4 separate regions of the Homo sapiens genome follow, and all the other regions are linked to region 3. Evidence: fine-mapped expression QTL. A gene starts in region 3. Each other region holds a variant in brackets. All regions are shown on one strand. Distances are from middle to middle.

Region 1 (2,687 bases), 21 kb after region 3:
TGTAAAAATCAGATGTTTATGGTTTTTAATTTTTTTGGCTGTGACTTAGCATTTTACATCCATAAAACTTTTTTTGTTATTGTTATAACGGTTACTGTAATTGTTACTGTGAATATAAACAATCTTGGGGAAGTGTAAATCGAAATTTAACAAGGTAGAAGCCCTGAATAATTCTCAAATTACATATGGTTAAGATAATATATTTATCAAGTTGTCCAACAGTGTATTTGTTTTAAACATAATTGTTTGGAAATCCATAAATGACTATTTTTCTCTCTGAGAAACTACATGAAGTAGGGAATTTTAGAGGTGAGAGTGTTTTCTTAGAAAATAATGGTAGTCTCAGTTAACAGTGTTCAAATTGACTGTATCATGGACCAATGGATCTGGGAGGGACCCTCAGTGTCCCCTAGTTTAATACCCCTGTAATACAAAGAAGGTACCTGACATCCAGAGAAATGATGTGCCTTGTGTAAAGTTGTGGTTAGGAAGGGACAGAGCCAGGACTCTAAATTCTGTCCTCCGGCCATAATTCCAAAACTTTCTCCAATGTTAGGTATGTAGGCTAAAATGTGCTAACAGCACTTGTGTTTTTGTTTCCTTTTGTTTTACTTTTTATTATGGCAAATTTCAAACATATACAGATACAGAATAGTTTAATGAACTCCCATGTTCTCATCATGCCAGTTCAAACATGAATACATGGTCAACCTTGTATCACTTAAACTCCTGCGGACAAGCCCTGCCCCATCCTGTTGTTTTGAATAAAATCCATCATTGTATCTCACTGTAAAAAGGCCTGTTCTTTAAGAAAAAATAACCATAATACATGATTGCAGCTAAAAAATTAAGAGTAATCTAGACAGCTAATCAATATTCACATTTCGGGGGGAGGAGCCAAGATGGCCGAATAGGAACAGCTCCCGTCTACAGCTCCCAGCATGAGCGACACAGAAGACGGGTGATTTCTGCATTTCCATCTGAGGTACCAGGTTCATCTCACTAGGGAGTGCCAGACAGTGGGCGCAGGACAGTGGGTGCAGCGCATCATGCGCGAGCCGAAGCAGGGTGAGGCGTTGCCTCACTCGGGAAGCGCAAGGGGTCAGGGAGTTCCCTTTCCTAGTCAAAGAAAGGGGTGACACACGGCACC[G/A]GGAAAATCGGGTCACTCCCACCCGAATACTGTGCTTTTCCGACGGGCTTAGGAAACGGCACACCAGGATATTATATCCTGCACCTGGCTCGGAGGGTCCTACGTGCACGGAGTCTCGCTGATTGCTAGCACAGAAGTCTGAGATCAAACTGCAAGGCGGCAGCGAGGCTGGGGGAGGGGTGCCCGCCATTGCCCAGGCTTGCTTAGGTAAACAGAGCAGCCGGGAAGCTCCACCTGGGTGGAGCCCACCACAGCTCAAGGAGGCCTGCCTGCCTCTGTAGGCTCCACCTCTGGGGGCAGGGCACAGACAAACAAAAAGACAGCAGTAACCTCTGCAGACTTAAATGTCCCCGTCTGACAGCTTTGAAGAGAGCAGTGGTTCTCCCAGCACACAGCTGGAGATCTGAGAACGGGCAGACTGCCTCCTCAAGTGGGTCCCTGATCCCTGAGCAGCCTAACTGGGAGGCACCCCCCAGTAGGGGCAGACTGACACCTCACACAGCCGGGTATTCCTCTGAGACAAAACTTCCAGAGGAACGATCAGACAGCAGCATTCACGGTTCACGAAAAACCACTGTTCTGCAGACACCGCTGCTGATACCCAGGCAAACAGGGTCTGGAGTGGACCTCTAGCAAACTCCAACAGACCTGCAGCTGAGGGTCCTGTCTGTTAGAAGGAAAACTAACAAACAGAAAGGACATCCACACCAAAAACCCATCTGTACATCACCATCATCAAAGACCAAAAGTAGATAAAACCACAAAGATGGGGAAAAAACAGAGCAGAAAAACTGGAAACTCTAAAAAGCAGAGCACCTCTCTTCTTCCAAAGGATCGCAGTTCCTCACCAGCAATGGAACAAAGCTGGACGGAGAATGACTTTGATGAGTTGAGAGAAGAAGGCTTCAGAAGATCAAACTACGAGCTACAGGAGGAAATTCAAACCAAAGGCAAAGAAGTTAAAAACTTTGAAAAAAATTTAGACGAATGTACAACTAGAATAACCAATACAGAGAAGGGCTTAAAGGAGCTGATGGAGCTGAAAGCCAAGGCTCGAGAACTACGTGAAGAATGCAGAAGCCTCAGGAGCTGATGTGATCAACTGGAAGAAAGGGTATCAGTGATGGAAGATGAAATGAATGAAATGAAGTGAGAAGGGAAGTTTAGAGAAAAAAGAATAAAAAGAAATGAACAAAGCCTCCAAGAAATATGGGACTATGTGAAAAGACCAAATCTACATCTGATTGGTGTACCTGAAAGTGAAAGTGACGGGGAGAATGGAACCAAGTCCTACTCTGCAGGATATTATCCAGGAGAATTTCCCCAATCTAGCAAGGCAGGCCAACATTCAGATGCAGGAAATACAGAGAATGCCACAAACATACTCCTCGAGAAGAGCAACTCCAAGACACATAATTGTCAGATTCACCAAAGTTGAAATGAAGGAAAAAATGTTAAGGGCAGCCAGAGAGAAAGGTCGGGTTACCCACAAAGGGAAGCCCATCAGACTAACAGCGGATCTCTCGGCAGAAACTCT
Region 2 (2,687 bases), 36 kb after region 3:
TTGGGGGGTGGGGGAAGAGGAGGGGCCATCTTTTTTGTGCCACAACCATTAGCATCTCCCAAGGTCCTGCTAACCACGGGCAAGAAATGTTGCCCTAGGATAAAGATGGAGGAAACAAATCTTGATGAAATATTGCCTCTGTGTATAAGCTTTGAACTTCTGAACTTAATTCAATGATTTTAATTTAGGTACTCAGAAACAGAAACAACTTTTCATTGGTGGAGAAGCTTGTCTATGGGGAGAATATGTGGATGCAACTAACCTCACTCCAAGATTATGGTATGGGATTTACCTGATAACATTTAAGAATTAAGGTGCCTTAGCTTTCCTTCTCTGTCTAAACACAAAAGTGCTAAACATAAATTTAAACTGCTTGCGGGGGGATGTGTGATTTAAATTTTAGGCCTCGGGCAAGTGCTGTTGGTGAGAGACTCTGGAGTTCCAAAGATGTCAGAGATATGGATGACGCCTATGACAGACTGACAAGGCACCGCTGCAGGATGGTCGAGTAAGAAATCTATTAAGTCCAGTGTGATTTTTAACCTTCTTATTCAGTGTTAGTTTCTTTTGCTATAAATAGAAATGTATGTTACCTAACAAATAGTAATTAGAAGAAACCAGGAATTATTTTTTTGTAAGTAATAATACCTGTAAAGATATATTCAGACTTGTGACTGTTTTATAGATACAAAAAATGTTGGTGTAACTTAGAACTCCATCTTGAGTTGCTTTAATTTTCTTCCCTTATTTTCAGTAATGCTGTGATTTAGTGATTCTAATTTAAGTTTCTAAGATGACATGAATATCAATCTAAAATATCTTTATGAATGATATCAATCTAAATCAATCTAAAATATCTTTATTCATGTTATCTACAGACGTGGAATAGCTGCACAACCTCTTTATGCTGGATATTGTAACCATGAGAACATGTAAAAAATGGAGGGGAAAAAGGCCACAGCAATCTGTACTACAATCAACTTTATTTTGAAATCATGTAAAATAAGATATTAGACTGTTTTTTGAATAAAATATTTTTATTGATTGAACCTTTGACCCTCTATCTTATTACATTTAGAGGCCTGGCATCTTTCTTGTGAGACAAGCTTAAGGACACAAAAGAAACACAACTTTGTGATACCACTCTTCTGAAGGCTACTTATAGTAATAACTTCATAGATGAACAGCATGATTCAGGTACAGTGGCTTTAAACATCAAAGCACATTTCTCATTATATAAATTAAAA[C/T]GGGTGGCTCCAGTGCCACTATCAAAGCTTAAGTTATATCTTTTATCTAGTTCTCTGAATGTACTGAAACAGTACTTTATTCGTCCAATAAATAAAGCAATAAAAATTGTTCTTACTGAAAATGAAGTAGCTAGGTGCTCCTGAATTTCTCTCCAAAAACTAAAACATTTAGGTCAAACCACTTCTCCGGTTGAGCAGTGTATTTTGATCTTGAGGATTCATGGCTTGATAAGTAGATAGTTCTAAGGCAAAAGTAGCTGAGCCTGATGTTAGCGTTCGAAGCACAGTTGAATAACCCTAATCAAAATAATTTAAGTCATTTATATTATCAAATTTAAGCCTCAAGTTTCTCTTCCTGCTGATTATCTTTTGACTATTAGGGAAAAGTGATGTTGCCACTTTTGTGGCTTAGCCATATCACTTCCTCCAAACAGATGATTTAACTTTTTTCAGGGTAAGTTGGATATAAAAACATTGAGGACAGAAAGCAGAGTAGTGCAAGTGTGCTGCAGATGTATTTGTTAGATGGCTTTGCCGGCAACCCAGGTGCCTGTCCTGGAGCAGAAGAGGCTGACGGGAGAAGAATGATAACTTGCCTTAAAACTGACAATGGTGGAAGTAAGATAAATGCTTGGCAGGGAAAAAATGGTCATATAGGCTGGTACCACATTTTGGGACTGTAAATACCCCCTTGTAGTGCTATAATCCCTGGATTTCGCCAACAATTTAAATTCAAAGTCCTAACCATTCCTGCTGGTTGAAACGAAACTTAACATGTATTCTCTAAATCAAAGCCTTAATGTTTCTTTCAGGTTACTGATTGTCTATTCATTGGCATATAATATCCCCTGAATTAAGAAGAATATGTACTTTTCAGTTACAAAGTACCTACCATAATTTCTGCTAAGGGAACAAATCCAATAACAACTTTGTTGTCCTGGCGAGTCTGAATTTCCTGAATGTTTCCTCTTCTTTGTGCCAGATCTGCCAGGACAGGGCTGAGATAATCTCTAGCTACTGTAACCTCAAGATTCATCAGAGGCTCCAAAACTTGCTTATCAGCTTTCTTCAGAGCCTAAAGAAATTAAAGAATGTTAACTTATCTTTCATAAATAAAAACTTAAAATAAATACAGCCTAGAGCTCATACAAAAAGACATAAGCTTGCTTTAACTCTCTCTTTAAAGATAACGTTTTATAAGATGGCAACAACTATAATATTTGCTTGTATAATAAGCATGATAACAGAATTTATAGATCTTTTGTATGGTATGATGCAAGGGGATGTTTATAAAAAATGCCTGTGAACATGTGGTCAGAGTCACAGAAAGTCCTCCCCTTTCAAAGATTCATTTGTTCATATTTAAACCTCATGTTTCTGTTCCTGATGTCTATAATTACAGTCCATGCCATGCCACATGCCAGAGACAGCAATAAAGGG
Region 3 (2,687 bases):
ACATTTCTTTGAAGTCTTTCCTTAAAGCTCTTCCACCCTCATTTTCAGAATACTTATATAGCAGATCTGTGGTTTTGGTCTGCCTAGCGTTTTCTCCTTCTGGTAAGAGAACACCTCTTCTCCCTTTGGCATCTCCAGTCCGTGTTCGTCATGTGACTTCACTGGCTCTTCCTTAGGGATGGGTTATGAAATCAAACTTGTCAGTTGGGATCCTTTATATCGGGACCCACACAGATGAGCCAAGATGTTCTCTCTCAGGATTCCTTGGGCATGCTCTGCCCCAGGGAGTTCTGATAGGAAGGCTTTATTGACCACAGCTGAAGTGCTGTTACAGAAAAGCCTAGACTTAGGAGCAAATAAACTCAGCTCTCATCTCGGTTATCTGGTGGTTGGGCTGAGAGGAGAAAGGTGCTCCTCAAGCTTGGCTTCTCCAGCTTCACCGAAGCCAGGGATCCACAGGAGAGCGCCCGTGTTGACAGCGTGAGCGGCGACCCGGTGTCGGCCTGGCGTCCCGAGCCTGTGCACTGGGCCGTTTTCTTTTTCTTTTCTTTTTTTTTTTTTTTTTTTTTGAGACGGAGTCTTGCTCTGTTACCCAGGCTGGAGTGCAGTGGTGCGATCTCGGCTCACTGCAACCTCCGCCTCCCGGGTTCAAGAGATTCTCCTGCCTCAGCCTCCCGAGTAGCTGGGACTACAGGCACCCGCCATCATGCTCGGCTAATTTTTGTATTTTTGTAGAGTCGGGGTTTCACCAATTTGGCCAGGCTGGTCTTGAACTCCTGACCTCAGGTGATCCGCCCGCCTCGGCCTCCCAAAGTGCTGGGGCTACAGGCGTGAGCCACCACGTACGGCCAGCACCGGGCATTTTTCTTACTTTAGCCATCCCGTGTTTGAGGTTGCTGTCTGGGCTCTGCTCCTACCCGAGGGCACCCCTGGAGGAAATTCTCGAGGTGACCTGGACAGGGCGGGCTGGGCGAGGACGCTCCCGGGGCCTGGAGGCGGAGTCGGGGGCGGGCGCGCGCAGTCATCTGACTCGGTGACTCACCCGCGGCCGCGCTTCCTCTGATCCGGGCCGGGCGGGAAGTCGGGTCCCGAGGCTCCGGCTCGGCAGACCGGGCGGAAAGCAGCCGAGCGGCCATGGAGCTGTGCGGGCTGGGGCTGCCCCGGCCGCCCATGCTGCTGGCGCTGCTGTTGGCGACACTGCTGGCGGCGATGTTGGCGCTGCTGACTCAGGTGGCGCTGGTGGTGCAGGTGGCGGAGGCGGCTCGGGCCCCGAGCGTCTCGGCCAAGCCGGGGCCGGCGCTGTGGCCCCTGCCGCTCTTGGTGAAGATGACCCCGAACCTGCTGCATCTCGCCCCGGAGAACTTCTACATCAGCCACAGCCCCAATTCCACGGCGGGCCCCTCCTGCACCCTGCTGGAGGAAGCGTTTCGACGGTGAGCGCTCCCGGCCCGGCCGGGAGTTGTCCTGGGGGAGGGGAGAGGCGGACCACCCCGGAGCGCTGTGCAGACCCTCACCACCCCACTGCGCAGACGAGAAACCGCCTGGGAGCTGGCAGGCGATCTGCCCAGCGCCACATGGACTGAACCCACGCTCTTGCCCCCACCCTCCTACTGCTTCTTAAGGGACACCTTGGGTGCTCAGGAACCCTGGTTTGAGAGCCGGATAGTAAGTGGAAGAGGGAGTTTGCTCTGAGGCCTTGTTGGGCAAATGGCATGGACGGAGGGGACACCGGAGCTGGGGAGGAAAGTGACAGCTCCTTATTTGAAGGACGTGCAAAGGGATAAGTTACCCGAAGGGCTTAGACAAGCTCTCTTGAGGGACCAGGAATCCCCCAAAGCTGACTGTCATTTATAGGCCAGTTTCGCCCCCTCACCTCTCCTCACATCTCCTGGTAACAGCTCAAATGGCAGAAGTCCTCAGTTTCGAGCACTGCCTAAAACTGCCCTCTCTCCTAAAATCTCTTCCATATAAAATGTGACATGTTTGCATCTGACTACGTTTCTGCGGTCAGTGGTTAGGCAGTATCCAACTTTGTTTCTCAACACCGATCATGTTGCCTGCTCTCCCTGCTTCCTCTTTTACAGACCCCTAGATAGCGCCTCTGTCTCTCTCACCCTTTGGCTGCAGACAGGGTGAGTTTTGTCATGGGAGTCAGCCAATCACACCATAGACAAGGCAGGTTCCCCTGGGGAGATGTTTGAAGACGCCACACACTGTCCCCTCAGTGTGAGACCTGTGTAGGTGGGACTGTCCTGAAGGCGTATCGTGCCCTGCAGAATTGTAATTTGGTGCTAACTGTACTGCCTCCTGGCATTCCCCAAGCCTGTCGCTGTACCCAGTGGATACTATAGAGCTTAAGTGTGCTTGCAGGACCCTGAACAGGTGGGGAGGGAATGTCAAACTAACTGAATAATGTGTTCTGACCCCAGATAGGACAGGTGCCTAGGCTCAAGCTGCAGAGGCCCAAGATGCTGATGGCAGAAATGGTTCATTCTCTACAATCAGAAGGCTCATGGTTTCCTTCTGTTTTGTACAACTAAATGGGTATTATCAGTCTCTATTTTAGACACACACACTAATGAGCCTTTGGTATCCAATCTGCTAAGGCCAGAGTGGGGTTAAGATGTAGAACCAAAGTGTTTGGTTGCATTGGGATATTCAGAAAGATTGCATGGAAAGTACATGAA
Region 4 (2,687 bases), 140 kb after region 3:
GATTTGTTTTGTATTATTTTAGTAACTGTATGAGACTTTTTCATTAATCTTCTAATTAGCACAGCCCTTTAACAGATAGTCCTTATCATTCCAGGCTGAGAAGGATTTATAAAGTTCAGCTAGTTTTGTGGTAGATAGTGATTACACTTTGGACATGGCCTCATTTTTTTAAATGTATACTTCTTGTTTTTAATCAAAGTCATCCATAACATTGTTTAGAATACAATAGTCATATAAGACTTAAGAAAAAAAAAAAGCAGCTCTGTGACCACTTTCCTGATACACACACATACACACACACACACACACACATACACACACACAAACACACTTTCTACACCCCAAAAGCAACCATTTTGAAGTCATTTAGCTGATATTTTCGGTATTTACTTCTACTTCTCTAAGTAACTTACTATACCTCTTGATTTCTATTTCTTCATTTTTCCATTTTAGGCATAGATAGCTAGAACTTGGAAGGTGAGAATTTAGCTCTTAAATACATTCACACACCCCAATCTCAACTCCAACATAAACACACTTCCCATACAAAAAACCCCAACACCCCTAAATAGTAATTTGTGATTTGTTAGATCAATTTTCAGTATTTACATTATGACTATATAAATGCTTTTGACAACTGAGCCATATAGTGTACCATGAATGTTTATTTTTATCTTTATTCTTACACTTTTTGATTTCCCTTAATAATATTTATTACTATCTCTCTCATCCTCCAAAGTCTCCAGTAACTATGTAAATCTTATCCCAATAAATTCAAATACATCAGGTATTCTATGAACTCTATCTTCTTAAATCAACGTCCCAGAGCTTTGTGATCTGCTCCAATCTAGATCAGTCAATCTTTAGAAAAAGAAATGTCCAAAAGATCATTCTGCAATGATGGAAAAGTTCTGTATCTACTCTGTCCAATGCAGTAGCCACTAGTCACATGTGGCCATTGAGCTCTTAAAATGTGGCCAGCATGACTGAGAAACTGAATTTTAAAATTTAACTTCAACAGCCACATAAAGCTAGTGGTTTTAACAAAGAGCAGCTCCACAACTGACATAGCTGTGATGTTGGATCTCCTTTCTTTTCTCTCTTAGTTTCCTAATCCCATCTTTCCTTCTTGATTTTCTTTATCTTAGGAGAGCACAAACTCTACTCACTTCCAGAAAAGGGGTATATAAAAGGTAAATTGTTTTAAGACTGACAGTCTAGAAATTTCCTTCTTTCACTCTCACTCTTTATTAATTTGACGGGGCACAGAACACACTGGAAATCACTTTACCCTTGGTATCTTAAAGGCATTATTCCACTTCTAGTATTCATGTTGCTGTTGAGAACTCTAGTAACGTTTTGATTCTTGATCTTTTGTCTAAATCATTCTCTCACTTTATGGA[G/A]GCTTTCAAAATCTTTTCTCTATTCCAGATGCTCTGAAATTTCACAATAATCTTGGTATGAGTGTATCTTAATTCATTGTGATGGATGCTCAATGGGCCCTTTTAATCTGGAAATGTGTGTTCTACAGTTCTGAGAAATGTTAGTGAATTATTTTATTGGTGATTTTTTCTCCTCCAATTTGTTCTCTCCTCCTGAAACATGTATTATTTAAATAATCCCTCTAATTTTATCATCTCTTCCTATTTACCATCATTTAGGTTTGTTTTTTGTTGTTTCTGCACTCCTTTCTGATCAACCTCCTCCAACTCTATTGGATTTGTTTTAGTTTCTAAGAGCTCTGTGAACATTCTTGTTCTTATTTCATAAATGCAATGACTAACTTTTCCAAAAATTTTAAGGGCCACATTTTTTGCATTGTCTTCTCCTCCAAATCTCTTTTACTCTCTTTTGCTTTAATCACCATTTTTCACATCAGTGGCCTTCCTTACCTATGACTATCTGTTCATAATTAAGAATGAGATATTAAAAAGCTAATTAGAAGCTCTGTGTGTATGGTGGGGCTTGCTGGCAATGGACCTCACAGCAGGATGATATGGCTGGAGCCTTTCCTAGGGGAACCATTTATATTGGTATTTTTAGTTTCTTTTTTCTTTTGGCCTAGTCAAACTCCTCAAAGGAGACGTTTTTGCTCATGTAGCCATAAAATAATTTTGAAATACCATATATTCACACATCCTTGTGATATCTAAAAATTTTCATCTAAGTTTCAATCAATAATTACAGAAGATGTTATTTCTGACATATTGTTGACTTTTAAAAAACTATTTTAAAAACAATTGTAGACTTATAGAAAAGTCACAAAAACATTACAAAGAGCTCCCATATACCCTTCACCCTAATGTTAACATCCTATATAGCCAAAATACTATTATCAAAACCAGGAAATTAACATTGCTATAATACTGTTAGCTAAACTACAGACTTTATTCAAATTTCACACATTATTCCACTAATGTTCTTTTCTGTTTCAGAATCCAATCCAGAATTCCTTCCTGCATTTAGTTTAATATATCCCTAAACTCTGGTCTTCGATAATTCCTCCATCTCCCCTTGTCACTCATAACCTTGACACTATGGCTGATTGTCAGTTACTTTATAGAATAACTCTCCTAATTTGGCTTTGTCTAATGGTTTCTCATGAATGAACTGAGATCATAAATTTTGGGCAAAAATGCTACAGAATGATACTGTGCCCTTCTCAGTACATCATATATCATGGGATA

Evidence for each region.
Region 1: its variant is fine-mapped to the expression of HEXB in whole blood (TOPMed, PIP 0.94).
Region 2: its variant is fine-mapped to the expression of HEXB in whole blood (TOPMed, PIP above 0.99).
Region 4: its variant is fine-mapped to the expression of HEXB in whole blood (INTERVAL, PIP 0.94).

Annotation. Positions count from the first base shown.
Region 1 is chr5:74,705,419-74,708,105 of GRCh38, forward strand. The region is part of intron 6 of HEXB (hexosaminidase subunit beta); the gene reads left to right. Among named protein-coding and RNA genes, the nearest start is that of HEXB, 22 kb to the left of the region's middle. RefSeq lists enhancers at 751-1,251, 1,252-1,752. The variant G/A (reference allele first, on the strand shown) is at 1,151.
Region 2 is chr5:74,720,240-74,722,926 of GRCh38, forward strand. It overlaps HEXB (hexosaminidase subunit beta), which reads left to right. Exons shown (of 14, transcript NM_000521.4): 12 at 189-279; 13 at 404-508; 14 at 879-1,049. The coding sequence ends at 936. It overlaps GFM2 (GTP dependent ribosome recycling factor mitochondrial 2), which reads right to left. Exons shown (of 21, transcript NM_032380.5): 20 at 2,140-2,322; 21 at 967-1,544. The coding sequence ends at 1,416. Among named protein-coding and RNA genes, the nearest start is that of HEXB, 36 kb to the left of the region's middle. The variant C/T (reference allele first, on the strand shown) is at 1,248.
Region 3 is chr5:74,684,127-74,686,813 of GRCh38, forward strand. It overlaps HEXB (hexosaminidase subunit beta), which reads left to right and starts at 1,107. Exons shown (of 14, transcript NM_000521.4): 1 at 1,107-1,433. The coding sequence starts at 1,135. RefSeq lists a silencer at 795-1,134 and enhancers at 819-1,319, 1,825-1,874, 1,935-1,984, 1,995-2,084.
Region 4 is chr5:74,824,418-74,827,104 of GRCh38, forward strand. The region is part of intron 5 of FAM169A (family with sequence similarity 169 member A); the gene reads right to left. Among named protein-coding and RNA genes, the nearest start is that of FAM169A-AS1, 40 kb to the right of the region's middle. The variant G/A (reference allele first, on the strand shown) is at 1,404.